Linked DNA regions of Homo sapiens: regions 1 and 3 are each linked to region 2. The links come from fine-mapping of genetic effects on gene expression. A gene starts in region 2. Each other region holds a variant in brackets. All regions are shown on one strand. Distances are between the middles of the regions.

The links. PIP is the estimated chance that this variant, and not a neighbour inherited with it, causes the effect.
Region 1: its variant is the best candidate, but not a certain one, in a credible set for the expression of BTBD10 in uterus (GTEx, PIP 0.68).
Region 3: its variant is the best candidate, but not a certain one, in a credible set for the expression of BTBD10 in whole blood (INTERVAL, PIP 0.53).

The regions. Positions count from the first base shown.
Region 1 is chr11:13,371,267-13,376,493 of GRCh38, forward strand. It overlaps BMAL1 (basic helix-loop-helix ARNT like 1), which reads left to right. Exons shown (of 20, transcript NM_001297719.2): 13 at 897-1,143; 14 at 2,829-2,935; 15 at 4,346-4,496. Among named protein-coding and RNA genes, the nearest start is that of BTBD10, 89 kb to the right of the region's middle. The variant G/A (reference allele first, on the strand shown) is at 2,334.
Region 2 is chr11:13,460,284-13,465,510 of GRCh38, forward strand. It overlaps BTBD10 (BTB domain containing 10), which reads right to left and starts at 2,939. Exons shown (of 9, transcript NM_032320.7): 1 at 2,809-2,939. RefSeq lists an enhancer at 3,119-3,308.
Region 3 is chr11:13,424,829-13,430,055 of GRCh38, forward strand. All of the region lies in intron 2 of BTBD10 (BTB domain containing 10), which reads right to left. Among named protein-coding and RNA genes, the nearest start is that of BTBD10, 36 kb to the right of the region's middle. The variant T/C (reference allele first, on the strand shown) is at 2,700.

The sequences.
Region 1 (5,227 bases), 89 kb before region 2:
CTCTTCTAGTCTGTTTTCTTTCTTCTCTGAGTCAGTGAATGACACCAGCAACCACCCAATCCAGAAAAGTTAGAGTCATCTTCATTTGTTTCTTTCCCTTAAGCCTGATATTCACAGCAAATCCCAACAGTTTGATCTCAGAAATTTCTCCTGCTTTCTTTCTCTGCTCCCTCTCATCTTCACTGCACTGCCATAGTTCAGTCCTCCTAATCTCTTGCTGTATTATAGCCACTGGCCCCTGAATCAGCCTTCCTACTTCTGTTTTCTACTGTCTTCCAGTTCATACGTCACTCTGCTCCTACAGCATCCAAACCACAATTTGATTTTGCTGTTTCTGCACTTAAATACCTGTAGATGCTCTCCATTTCCTGCCTTAAAAAGACAGACCAACATTGGTTAGAAAGTAATCCAAGGCCCTTTTAATCTTCCTCCAACCTGCCTTTCCAATTTGCCCCTCACTCCCAGTACCTCCAATTTCACTTCAACCACACAGAGCTCTTGGCCAGTTCCTATATAGGCTGTGCCTCTGTGCCTGTGTACGTCATCAGCCTTTATACATTCTAGTCCCTCAGCCACTGCTCATCCTTCTTGATCCACCTCCTCTACTGGTTTTTTGGGGGAGCCTTCCTCTCCCTAGGAAGAGTTAGATATTCCTTCCTTGGTGTATGTAATGAATGTCCATGGTATAACTGGCCCTACTTAAGCATTCTGACACTGGATGACAGTTTGTTTCTCTTTCCGTCTGCCCCTTTCATTAGATGCTTACTTCTGGAGAGTGAAGCCTTGATTTTTTTTTATTTTTTGACTCCCTACCTACATCCCATCCCACCATCGGCCGTGTACACCTCCATGGCCCAAACCTAGTGCTGACACTAACCACGAACTTTGCTTTCTAGCAGATCGAAAAAGCTTCTGCACAATCCACAGCACAGGCTATTTGAAAAGCTGGCCACCCACAAAGATGGGGCTGGATGAAGACAACGAACCAGACAATGAGGGGTGTAACCTCAGCTGCCTCGTCGCAATTGGACGACTGCATTCTCATGTAGTTCCACAACCAGTGAACGGGGAAATCAGGGTGAAATCTATGGAATATGTTTCTCGGCACGCGATAGATGGAAAGTTTGTTTTTGTAGACCAGAGGTAAGAGTCTACATACTACCCTTGAGCAATGATGGTAGAGGATTTTCAACCCTGATCTAAAAAGCAGAGAAGACTGGGCCATCAGCTGGCTTTTCTAAGAATGAAGAAAGAAAGAAAAAGCTGGGTGCAGTGGCTCACACCTCAAATCCCAGCACTTTTTGAGGCCAAGGTGGGTGGATCACTTGAGCCCAGGAGTTTGAGACTAGCCTGGGCAACGTGGCAAAACCCTGTCTCAACTAAAAATACAAAAATTAGCCAGGCATGGTGACACATACCTGTAGTCCCATCTACTCTGGAGGCTGAAGCAGGAGGATCAGCTGAGCCTCGGGAGGTCAAGGCTGCAGTGAGCTGTGATTGCACCACTGCACTTCCGCCTGGGCAACAGAGTGAGACCCTGTTTCAAAAAAAAAGAGACAAATGATGAGAGTCTCTGTTAAAAAATGAGATTCAATAGGATATCATCATAAATACAGAGATTTTTCTGTCATTCTTTGGCATATAGAGACAATTAAGTGGGGTGCCTTGATGTCCATGGCTAAAAGAAAAACAGTAGGGATAGCATGCTGTCTGAATCTATGGAATGTTCCAGAACCATTATTGTGATTGAAATTCTTTTGAATCTAGGACTTGGAAGCAATTATTTAGTCCTGAGCTGTCCAATAAAATACTCGTTGGCCATGGTAGCCTCCCATGTGGCTAACGGCACAGACATAGAACATTTCCATCATCACAGAAAGTCTTGTTGGACAGCGTTGATCTAATCCAACCTCCTTATTTTATGGATGAAGAACAGAGGCCAGCCTGGGGACTGGTCTCCTGTAGGATTCACAATTAATTGGTAATAGACCTGGACCAAGGACCCAGGTGTCCCAAATTTACTGCTGCCTACTGCTTTCCCTCAGAATATGCACAGGCTAATAATTTTTCTGGCTACTAGAGACAGCCACAACATGCTGGAAAAAGAGACAGCCTCAGCTGTCTTGTGGCCTCAGCTGCTGCAGCTTCTGGCATTTGGTTGTCCTGATAAAAAGGAGGCAGCAAAAACTAGAAGCCTTGCACTGAGGTTTAGATTTATACCACATTTTAATCTAATTAATGTGGTTCCTTTTTTAAAGACAGATCTCAGTCTGTCACCCAGGCTAGATCTAGTGCAGTGGCGAGATCTTGGCTTACTGTAGCCTTGACCTCCC[G/A]GGCTCAAGCAGTCCTCCCACCTCAGCCTCCCAGGTAGCTGTGACCATAGGCATGTGCCACCATACCCAGCTCATTGTTCTGTGTTTTTGGTAAAGACAGGGTTTCACCATGTTGCCCAAGCTAATCTTGAATTCCTGAGCTCAGACAATCTGCCCAACTCGGCCTCCCAAAGTGCTGGGATGACAGGCATGAACCACCATGCCCGACTGGTTGCAATTTTTAAAGCCCCCTCAGATTTGATTTCTTGTGATAATAGTCCCTTTACAAAGGCTTTGCTCTGTTTCCCTCTATTTTTATAGCCTTGATTAAATTCAGATGCCTGAAAAAAAGAGAGAAAGATCCACACAGTGAGCCCTCTGAAAATCCATCCAGCTCTTTTGCCTGCAGCTTTGACCTTGCTCTCATAGGCTGTAGCAGGGTTTATCCATTGCAAAGTTGCAATTAATCATCTGAATGGCTTTTTCTTCTTTAAATATTCCTTTATTCCCTTTTAGGGCAACAGCTATTTTGGCATATTTACCACAAGAACTTCTAGGCACATCGTGTTATGAATATTTTCACCAAGATGACATAGGACATCTTGCAGAATGTCATAGGCAAGGTAAGCTAGGATGTATGAAAGATCTTAAGTTGAAAGTGTCCCCTTGCTTCTAGACTAGTCAACATGACCTTCCAGGGAAATCTGTCCACTGAGGATGTAGAGTCAGCCAGCCTAGGACTCTTCAGGTCAGAACATCTGTGTGAAGAGGAAGCTGATACCTGCAGGCACTGTTTATCCCCCTTGTAGTTGCCCTGTGCTGACTGCATGGCAGTTTCTGAAAGACATCTCTTGTTCAGAGGGTTTTCCCAGACCCTGTAAAGATTTAGTATGGCCCAGACTGATCTGATTCTCTTTTCCATTCAAGCCTGCACTACCTCCTGTGTTTTCTGTCTTGACTAATGCTGTGGCTTCATGTGCAGGCTCCTGAGAGAGACCAACATTGACCCCTTCTTTCACTGTGTCTCCACCAGATCCTGTTCATTCACCTCAGACATGCATTTCCAAAAGTCTACTTTTTACCACCTCTGCCATCACCCTGGTTCAGGCCCTCGTGCCTACTTAGAGACCTGTGATAGACTTCTCAGGGTTTCTCTGATCCCTCTCACCCCCAGTTCATCTTCCATAGTTATCCTATTTATCCCCAGATAGATTGAGCCTGGTAACATCAGCCTGCTTAAAAACCTCCTGCTTTAGACTCAAGCCCAAATGCTTTTGACAGGCAATCAAATGTGAGACCTTCCACCTTCTGGCCCCAGCCCACCTCCTCAGTTTCAGTCCCCATCCCTGCCTGCAGAGGCCTGTGCTCCAGGCACACTGACCTCACTGGCCTCTCCCCAACCAGACCCTGCTGCTCCTCAGGCACTGCTGGGTTCTTCCCTCCCTCCTTCTCTTGGCAAACTCGTGTTCATCCCTCAAGGCTCTGATCTCTTCTCCCTGTATAGCCTTCCCTCACTACTCTTCTTGAGGGCAGGAGTCATAGCCTGTCTCCTCTTGTATCTCCAGTGCCTGGCACATGAGAAGGGCTCATTACATGTTACATGAAAGAATGAGGTTGAATAGGTGAGTAGCCTCTGTTGATTTGGATGTTCTTAGAAATGAGATAAGTTCTATATTGCCCTTGGGCTTTGTGATTGAGATAAAGCATGACATTTTGGACAGTGCCTTCTCATTTGCTGGTGGTCATGTTAGAGCTGATTCCAGTTAGATGTATAACATGCAGTCAGTAATTCCCTAGAGCCTCAATTTTACAGACTATGGAAAATCATGACAGCTTCACAAATGAATTGAAAGGCTCTGAGTTAGACCCTCAGAAACAACCTATTTCCTGAGTGTTGACCACTGCAGTTTCCTTGGCTTACTAAAGAGCGATGTCGTTGGAGCTCAAGTACCTTTAATATTTTGTATTGGATGTCCTGTTTAATACTTTGGTCTGAGAAAACAACAATGTCCATGTTTTCTTTACATTTTCAGTTTTACAGACGAGAGAAAAAATTACAACTAATTGCTATAAATTTAAAATCAAAGATGGTTCTTTTATCACACTACGGAGTCGATGGTTCAGTTTCATGAACCCTTGGACCAAGGAAGTAGAATATATTGTCTCAACTAACACTGTTGTTTTGTAAGTACTTTTCCTATATCTGAAGCTCCCCTTGCTTCAAACAGATGCCTAGGGTTCCTCATCTGGGAAATGGGGTGCAGGCAACATCCAGTATCACATCCTTTAATGCCATCTTGCTAATACCTGTGAAGCCTCAGGACTGGCAGAAGCTAGAAAGGATTGTTAACAAAGGGACAAGCTTCAGGACTTGTACCATGCAGGCCCTGGCTTATGAAACTGCTCCAGGAAATAGCAACATTTCCTTCCAGATAAAGCAGCTAACCTTTGAATTCCACAGGCCCTGCACCCTAGGCATCCACTTGTGCTGCTGTGGAGGAAGGGGTTGGCAATCTATGAAAGGCTCATTCAGGCACTAGCTCACACTGGCCTTGGCTGAGGATGGGGAGGTCTCCATACCTGTCAGGCAGGGGGCCCAAGCACTGGCAGCTGGAATGCCATCTCAAAAGGCTGCTACCTGCTAGATGAGCAGAGGGAGGTGAAGGAGCCTCTCTTTGGCCAGGCCTGCTCCCCACTTTTCCTTCCCCATAGTGTCCAAAACCCCACCTATGGTAAGAGCTGTGTGAGGGGCCGGGGCTAGGTGCACTGCAGGCTGGCAGGAGGAGGTGCTGTAATGATGGCAGTAGGTTACTGCAGCCACCACCTCTGCTGAACTGTGTCCCACACATATTAGGAAGGCCTAGGCAGGCAGTGGGGCCAAAGGCCAGGATGCTATCCATTATATTATCAAACAG
Region 2 (5,227 bases):
ATGGGTACTTAATCATTTCATCTTCCTTTTCAAAATTCTCTCCCTTACCTAACTTCCTCTCTCACCCTTATCCCAAGTGAAGACCCCCAACTTGCCCTCTATATGCCTAAAAAACACCTCTTACTTAGCTTTGACCTCTAGCACTCCCATTCCCCATAACCCAACTAGGTATGAATCAGATTATGTGATTAAATTACTTCACATTAATGGGTAAATGAGGCTTAATCCACAAAGGTCAATTCCACACGTCATTAAACTCTACTATGTATAAGGCACTAAGTTTAATCAATTAATATACCTATCCTTCTTACAAGAAAAACTAACACAAATCAATCTTTTAATGAACAATGTAAGGAAGGGGCACAAGAGTGTTTGCTTCACATCACACTTTCTCCACCCAGTTCTTTCCATCCTGTTGCCAAACCCCTCCAATCTCCATCTGGCATGGAATAAAATCCAAGGGATCAGTATTTCTTCCAGTAAGTCAATGCCTAGGAAGACAATGTGGGATAGCACAGCAAACAATAAACATTCAAATCCTGAAATGGACTGTAGAGGGTCTCTTGTATTTAATTTTATATATTAGCTGCAAATACAATAAAGAGCTTCTAAATAATTCAATTTCTGTACAAGATACCTATAAATCAGCTTTGCTCAGAACTCTGAGTTTTTAAACCATAAATACTGAGATGCTTTTTCTTCAGTTATTTCCACAGTTAAAACGTTTATAGTAAATACCAGTTCAAATTGCCCTACTATAACTATACTTAAAGGCTATTAAACTTAACTACTGTTTTCAATTAGATGTGACATTTTTCCCAAGACCCCTTAAGTTTGAAACTCCAAACTTGCTTTAAACCTCCTTTTTTTCCAGTCATAAAATTTATTAATTTTGATTTATAACAGAGCTTCTAAACTGGAGAGGAGAATACAACTATGGACAGGTTTGGATTTGATTCAGTCACATGATATTTTTAATGGTTTTAATTAGTTGTCAATATTTTTAAGACGCAAGACACTGAATGCAAAAATCTAGATTTCCGAGTTCTCTTGAGAATGCTGAAGATGGGGTCCATATTCTTATATAGCACTGATTAGGGGGACCTGAGACTTGGATGTCTCTCTGATAAGGCATAGTGCATTTCCCTCATTTTCATTATCTAACTAGTACCCGAAGGCATGTGAGTTTGTTGCTCATGCTATGGCTTTGAAAGGTGCACAATATTTTCCATATCACTTCCATACTTCCCTAAGTCACCTATTATAAAAAGCCAAAAGCAGACCACAGTGGTTTGCAACTCCATAGTTAATAATTTAAAAAATTCACATGGCTTAGAGGGAGTGAGAAAGAAGAAAATTCAGACTGGTGGAAGGGTAACATAATTACATAGGGTTAGAAGTCTATCTGAAAGCTTTTCTGGGAGTGAGAAAAAAGGTGAACGAACACAAAAACATTGTTGAAACACTAAAAGCTTTCCTGATTGAACACTGTTACTCTCTGGTGGTTCCTTACCACATTCCATGCTTCAGAAACTTCCTTCCTACTTTGTATGTATTAATATAATAGCTGTTAGGTCATACACGCTGAGAAATATTGGGAAAATTTATAAAACACATTTACATCATCAGAAATAATTCTTCTCACACTTTTTTTTTTTTTTTTTTTACCAGTCTTGGTCCACTTTCAAATCCCTTCCCAAGTATTTTCTACTGCTTTCCGCTTTATATTCAAATGACAACTGCAGTCCTGGGTTTCAGGACTGAACTTCAATCCTGGACAGGCTCTCTAATACAGAAACTCTTTTGGCCGTTATGGCTGCATTCTTTATTATATCTCTTATTCCGATTTCCACAGTCTCTTTCATTGAAAATTTATCCCTAACCCCCTCTCTAAAAGATTTTGATCAAATTTGTGTAGTTGGGGGGTTGGGAGGATAGGGGCGGGAAGGAACTCAGTTGTCCAAATACAATTAATATCCTGTGCTGTTTCATTTAGATTGCTAATTTAAATAAAAAGCATGAAAACTCTGCAAGATAATAAATCTTCGTAAAATAATCTTGTTTACTAAGTGCACAAAGCCACAAGCAAGTGAAGCTCTATCTTTCAGCATGTCTGGACTAGTGACTTTTCATCATGGACTCAGAATACTGAGAAAGGAGAAGCAGGAAATCTGTGAGGCCCAGGGACAGTCACACTGGCCCACACTAACAAATTACTAACCGATGTCTCACCTTCCCCCGCCCCATTCCCAAAGATAAGGGTGTCAGGGCACCTGCATCTGAAGAAGAAAGACATCAGAACCTTTTCCGTGCAAGTTTTAAGAAAACAAAGCTTTACCACACGTAAAATGGTTACAACATAAAACCACGCAGCACGTTAGTGGGGTCTCACTCCTCTTCACCCAGAGGGAGGCTGCCCACCACCTTATCCCCTATTGTGATGCGCCTTCCTCAGGATGTCGCTGCGTTCGTCTGAGATGACAGGAAAGGGGCGGGGCACGGGGTTCCTCTGCCCTGGAAAGGGATGAGGGTATCGCCTTCATCCCCGGAGAAAGGCCCCCGGACTCCCAACCCAAAAGCAGCAGCCGCAAAACTCAAGTCTTATCCCGGCCTCTCCTAATTGGGTGCTCGTGGCCGGAGCCCAAAACGCCACCCACGGTACCCGAGCAGGGTCCGGCCGCCCAGACCACCGCCGCAGCAGCCTGGCTCTCACGCCCAGATTCGCCCTCCGCCCCTTTCCTCTTTCGCCCCGGCCAAGCCCAGCCTCCCGCGCCGCCCCCGCCGAGTTCCCCAGCTGAGTCCACTCACTCTCGAACCTGTAGTCCCCCTTCAGTGCCCACACAAGATTGGGGCAAAGGCCGGGGCCAGTGACACCTCCACTTCCTCCTCAGCCAGATCCCTCCGGAGGTGGCTGTGGAGGAAGCCACTGAGGCGGCTGCGCGTAGCGGAGCCGCCCCGGCAGGTTGCAGGCCGGCTCCTCAGCCTCTTACCGCGAGAGCTCACAATGCGAAGAGGCGAGGCCAGCAGCGTTCTCGCGAGAACGGTGCTCTCCGCCCAGGGGTGGGCGGGGCACCGAAGGAGAAGGCAGTTGAGGGCGCGGCGGCCACGGGTGGGATCTCAGGCGCGTGGAGAGGAAGGCGCCGCGCGACCTCTCCTCACAGACATCAGCTCGGGTCAACCGCGGGCCTCGAGCCCGAGTGGCTGAGGGCTGTTACCTTCAAACCTTTGAATCCCACGTTTTCCCCTTGACTTCCTGTCACCGTTAGAGAAAAGTGGACAGCGTCTCGGTCACAGAGTTGGAGAAATAGTGCAGGGACTCTTCAGGGAGAGCGTTTTCCTCATCAAAGCAAACTGCAAAATCGCTTCTGCCGGCGTGGACCTGATGAGAGTCGGTCGTCGTGAGGGACACCCTCTGTTCCCTAACGTCCCCCGCTGCTTATTTTTAAACGCTCGGTTGGCGGGAACCCCTGTGCCAGCTGAAACTCCTTCAGTTTGGCCGCCTAGGAAACACCGAGAGTCACCTACATGGGCTGGCTGGGCAATAAAAACGGGAAAAAATGTAAAAGACACAGTCTCCGCCTTCGAAGCTTACACCCCCGGGGCAAGACCTACAGGAAAATAGATAATCCCATTATTCTCTGATAAAAGCCGAGCTGCTTGCCATGAGCTCTGGGAGCAGACGGGGAGGCCTTGTTGAGAAAGCCTTCACCTGGGAGTGACAATTGCGCTGAATCTTAAGCATAAGTAAGTTCTCCAGTTTAGGGAAGAGAGGGAAGGGCATTGCAAGGAGAGGAAGCAAAGAGGAAGAGGACCTGGTTTGAGTAATTGGGTATGAAAACAGATATTGCAGCAAGAACTTTGTTGAAAAACCTTTAACCACTGTTTAGTTCGGATGAGAACATTCCCAGGCTCCTACGTGTGATACGCAAAGTATTTTCCAAATCAGTGTTTATGCTAAGAAGATGAGCAGTTGAGCTGGACAATTATAAGATAACTTCATCTTTCTCCTGTAAGGACACTTAAATATCAGAAACCTAAGAGAAACGGGTTATTGTCGTAATTCACTAAGTTATTATAGCCAACATTTTGCTAAATTGGAAATTGCCAATAATTTCAAGTTGTCTACATAAGAGCAATCTAATAGGAATTTTGTGATACAGTTTCTCAGAGAAACTCTGAGAAAATTCTCAGGCAAAAAACAAAAACGTCATCAGTCCTGATTTATTATCAAAATTTTCTCCTATAAGCTCTGCTCAGAAGAAGTCATTCTGTAGTCCAAGTTAGGGCTAATGAGGAGCCATACTCTTACATCAAAATAGAAGCTGTCCTTTTCTAAAGAAAGACTCTGGTATTTTGCTGTAGTTTCCACTCACCTTCCTTTGGACACATTATTTTCATATTACATATAAAAATATGTATACTATATGAAAAATACTATGTATACTATAGTTTTATTTGGCTTACCATACTCTCCCTACGAATAAGCCCAACACTTAGGAGGAAAACAAAAAAGTTATTCTAACCCTGCTGATACGGTTTGGATCTATGTCCCCACCTGACCTCTCATGTGGAATTGTAATCCCCAGTGTTGGAGGTCGTTGGATCATGGGGGCAGATTTCCCTGTTTTTGCCATTCTGGTGATAGTGAGTTCTGGTGAAATCTGTTCTTTAAAAGTGTGTGGCGCCCCCCCACCCCCGCCCCACTCCTCCCACCATATAAGACGTGCCTGCTGTACCTTGGCTTTCTGCCATGATTGTAAGCTTCCTGAGGCCTCCCCAGAAGCCCAGCAGAAGCCGTCGGACTTCCTGTACAGCCTGCGGAGCCGTGAGCCAGTTAAACCTCTTTGTTTTATAGCAGTGCAAGAATGGACTAATGCACCTGCCATAGGCCAATTGGGTGTTCTGTTAAGCATAATTTCACATCAAGTTCTTGGAATTTTCCAGGAAGCATTAGAAGAATCATATGAATGAAAGACTTCAGGCAAAATATGGAAACTTTGTTCCATGCTGGAATCTGTTCAAACCATCATATCCTACTTGGATGGGTCCTGGAGCTCATTTCATTCTGCTGTTCTTCAAAAACAAAAGAGAATGGGAGTTGGGAGAAAATAGAAAATCGAATAAAGTTTCTACTGTTCTTTGCTTTAAAAGAAAATTAATCGGCCGGGTTCGGAGGCTCGCGCCTGTAATCCCAGCATTTTGAAAGGTCGAGGCGGGCAGATCACGG
Region 3 (5,227 bases), 35 kb before region 2:
GCGAATGAGATATGCCCAACAATTGTCCCAAATTACTATCTTGAGAGCATTTGCAAAGTAAACACAGAAAGGGGAAACACAAGCAGAACCCAGTGGACTCTGAGTGAAAGACATGGAGCTGAGACATTGGGATAAGAGATGGCTAGAGTTCTAAGGGAAAAGTACCAGAGAGGAGAGTGTAACACAGAGAGAAAACCTCAGAAATTTGCAGAGTCCTCCTTGAGTACTGAGCTGGATACCAGTCACACATGTGAGGACACTATGAAAAGAAGCTGGGGAAAAAAAACAGCTCAAAGGATTAGAGGAAATAGTGCCCAGCACTCATACAGGGTCAGGAATAGGTCCTGTTCCCACTGGTTCAGACTGGAAAGCCTAATAATTTATAGGGCACTGGGAAGAGAATTAGAAGGTTCTAAAATGGGAAATAATTACAACTAGACTGAGCACTGTTCCAGTTCCCCTAATAAATTTTAACATCAAGACCAAAAGGACCACACTGTTTCCCTATAGCTAAATCCTAAAGCAAAGCTCAAGAATATTTATAAGAAATATCAAACACACAAATGAGGTAAAATTTACAATGTATGGCATCCAATCAAAAATTATCAGGCATGCAAAGAAGTGAGAACACATAACCCATGAGGAAAAAAAACATCAAGTGAAATAAAACGTGAACTGACACATACGTTAGAATGAGAAATAAAAACATTAAAAAGTCACTATAACCACAGCCCTCCAAAAAGCAATGTAGAGACATACCAGATTAAAAAAATGCAAATCAAGCTTCCAGAGATAAAAATGTTTACATGTGAGATGAAAAGTATACTAAATGGCCCTTTAAAATGACTATAGTTAACAATAACTTATTATATATTACCAAATGGTTAGAAGAGAGAACTTTGAATGTTCCTGACATTTTTAAAAAATGATAAATGTTTGAGGTGATATACTAATCACCCTGAGTTGCTCACTACACACTGTATACATGTATTGAAATATCACTCAGTACCTCTAAATATGTATAATTATTACATGTTACATGTCAATTAAAAATAACTTTAAAAAAGAAAAGCACACCGAATGGAATTAATGGGAGATTACACATTATAGAAGAAATGATTAACAAATTTGAAGACAACGCAATAGGAAATATTCAAAATAAAAAAGAGAAAACAGAAAAATAAACAGCATGAGTAAGCTGCAGGTTCATTTCAAGTGGCCTAATATAGGTGTAAATGGAGTCCATGAAGGAAGTGGGAAGGAAAAAAGGGAAGTAATATCTGAACTTTCTCCAAATTTGGCAAAAATTACAAACCCACAGATTCAATATGCACAACAAACTCTACAAACACTTTAAAGAAAAAAAATGAAAACAAACCCTGTCAACCTAGGTTTTTCACAGCCAGTAAAAACATCTTTCAAAAATAAGAAGGATCTGCATTGATTTGTCGAAAAAAAATAAGAAAGTACAGACATTTTCAGGCAAAAAAAGACACATGAATTCATCATGAGAAGACCTGCATTGCAAGAAAAGTTAAAAGGGAGTCCTTCAGGCAGAAAAAAAAGCTAATGCCAGATAAAATATGAATCTACACAAAAAAATGAAGACTACTAGAAAAAGTAACTGCATGGAAGAATATAATTTTTTTCTAATTGTTTAAATCTCTATAAAAGATTAAACAATAATGATAATAATATAATATGGGGTTTATAACATATACATATAACTAGAGTAGCACAAAGTCTGGGAGAAAGAAATGCAAGTATACTTTTGTAAGGTTTTTACACCACACAAGAAACAGTATAACATCACTTGAAGGTATACTGTGATAAGTTAAAGATGTATACTGTTAATACTAAAGCAACCACTAATATAAGAAAACAAAAGAAATACAGTTAATATACCAAAAAAGGAGATAAAATAAAATCATAAAAAAGGATTTGGCTAATCCAAGAAGGCAAAGGAAAAAAGGGGTTGGGAGGAAGAAGGAAAAGGAACAAATGGGACAAACGGAAAATAAATAACAGGACAAGACTTAACCTTAACCATGTCAATAATCACATTAAATACAGATAGCCTTAGCCATTTAGATGTAAACTGTCTAAACCATAAAAGGTGAAGATTATCAGATTGGATATAAAAGCTAGATCCCCAGCCTGGCAGATCACTTGAGCCCAGGAGTTCGAGACCAGCCTTTGGCAACGTGGCAAAGCCTCATCTCTACAAAAAATACAAAAATTAGCTGGGTGTGGTGGCACATGCCTGTGGTCCCAGCTACTCAGGAGGCTGAGGTGGGAGGATCACTTGAGCCTCGGAGGTCAAGGCTGCAGTGAGCGGAGATCGCACCACTGCACTACAGCCTGGGCAACAGAGGGAGACCCTGTCTTAAAATAATAATAATAATAATAAGCCAGGTCCAACTATATGCTATATGGTACAAAGAGATTCAATATAAAAGAATGAGGAAAGATACACTATGCTAGCACTAGTTCAAAGAAAGCAAGAGTGGCTATATTAATATCAGACAAAGCAGAGTTCAGAACAAAGAATATCACCAATGTATTTCATAAAGATAAGGGGGTTAATTTATTAAGTGCACATAACAATCCAAATGTTTCTCTGCCTCATGAGAGAGCTTCAAAATACAGGAAGCAAAAACTGATAAAACTATGAGAACTAGACAATTCCACAATTATCA[T/C]CAGAGATTTCATCACCTCTCTCACAATATTTAACAGAAAAACTACACAGAAAATCAGTAGGGATTGATGAGATTTGAATAACATTATCAACTGACTTGATCTCATTGACATTTACAAAACACCCAAAAAGGGCAGAAAACTCATGCTTTTCATGTGCACACAGAAGAACATTTCTCAAGATAGATCATATTTTGGGCAATAAAACAAGTATCAATAAACTTAAAAGAATTTAATCATACAAAGTATGTTCTCTGATTACAATGGAATTAAAGTAAAATTCAATAACAGAGATACCTAGAAAATTCCCAAATACTTGGAAATTAAATAATATCTTTACCTAAACAACTTACAGAGCAATAAATAAATCAAAAAGGAAATTAGAAAAGTTTGAACTAAAAGAAAGTGGAAAAAACCCCAAGATACCATAATTTGTGGCATGGTATGACATTGTAACAGTACTTAGGGGCAAATTATGGCATTAAATTCCTACATTAGAAAAGAAGAAAGGTCTAAGAAAAATGACATCAGTCAATAAAATTGTTAAACCTCTACCCAGACTGCTTGGGACAAAAATCGAGAAGATACAAACTACCAATGTCAGAAATAAGAGAGGCTACAGATACTAAAATAATAATAAAAGAATATTATAAACAACTTTAAGCCAATAAATTCAACAACTCAGAATGGACAAATTTAAACCTACAAAAAAGCTCACTTAAGAAAAGGTTGAATAGCTCTGTTTACTGAAGAAATTTAATTTGTAGTTTAAAACATTCCTTCCAAGAAAACTCTAGGCTCATATGGCTTCACTGACAAATTCTACCAAGCATTTAAGATAGAAATAATATCACCCCTACACAGCTCTTCCAGAAAATTGATGAGAAGATAGTATTTCCCAACTCATTCTATGAGACCAACATTGCCCAGACACCAATATCTAGAAAATTCCCAAACACTTGGAAATGAAATAATACCTTTACCTAAACAACTCACAGAGCAATAAAGAAATCAAAAAGGAAATTAGAAAATTTTGAACTAAAAGAAAGTGGAAAAAAATATTACAAGAAAATAAAACCACAAATCTTAGAACACAAATATCAATATTCTAAACAAAATTTTAACACATCAAATCCAGCAATACATAAAAAAAGAATAGTAATCAAAGACCAAATGCTCTCCATCTAAAATCAGAAATAAGAATCAGAAATAAGAATGTCTACTGTCACTTTTCTTCAACAATGTACTGAGGATTATAGCCAGTGCAATATGGCAAGAAAAGACATTCAGATTGATTAAGATGTAAAACTGTCTTTATTTGCAGAAAACATGATCATCTATTGTAGGCTCTAGTAAGAAAAAAAGGTTACTAGAACCAATGAGTTCAGCAAGGTTGCAGAATACAAAATCAGTATTTTAAAATGAACTTTATTTCTATATACCAACAATACGCAACCTAAAATTGAAATTTTAAAAACACTACTTACAAATAACACCAAAACCTGAAATACTTAGGGATAAATATGACAAAAGATGTGAAAAACTCACACATTGGCAAAACCTGAAATACTTAGGGATAAATATGACAAAAGATGTGAAAAACTCACACATTGGAAATTATAAAACATTACTGAAATTAAGAAGACCTAAACAAATGGAGAAACCTACCGTCTTTACAAGTCAATTTTCTCCCTAAGTTCATCTACTAGATACAACATAATCCCAATGGAAAACCAAGTAGGCTTGCTTGTCAAGAGTGACAAGCTGATTCCAAAATTCATATGAATACGCAAATGACCTAGAATAGCCTAAATAATTTTTTTAAAAGAACAGTTGGAAGACTAACATGATCTGATTTCAAGACATATTAAAAAACTGTAGTAATGAGTAAAGTGTGCTACTGGCATAATGACAGGCACATAGATCAATGAATCAGAATGAAGACTCCAGAAAAGAACTCACATACATATATATGGACAACTCATTTTCAACAAGGGCTCAAACACAATTCAGGGAAGAAAGAGTTTTTCATCAAATGGTGCTGGAACAAATGAATATACAATAGGTATTTCACTTTCAGCAATTCTAGAGAAAAAAAAAAAAGAACTCTGTGCAATAGTTCCCATCATATGCAAAAGTTAACTCAAAATGGACCACACACCTAAATCTGAAACTTAAAACTACAGAACTTCTAGAAATAAAAAGCCTAATGCATAAAAGAGCAAACCGACAACTGAACTTCATCAAAATTAAAAACTTTTGATCTTCAAAAAACAGTGTTAAGAGAATGAAAAGAGGCTGTGCGCAGTGATTCAAGCCTGTAATCCCAGCACCTTGCGAGGTTGAGGTGGGAGGATGGCTTGAGCCCAGGAGTTCAAGACCAGCCTGGGCAACATAGTGAGACCATTTCTACAAAAAAATTTTTTAAAAATTAGCCAGGAGTGGTGGCAGGCATCTGTGGTTCCGGCTACTTGAGAGGCTGAGGTGGGAGTATTGCTTGAGCCCAGAAGTTTGAGGTTGCAGTGAGTCA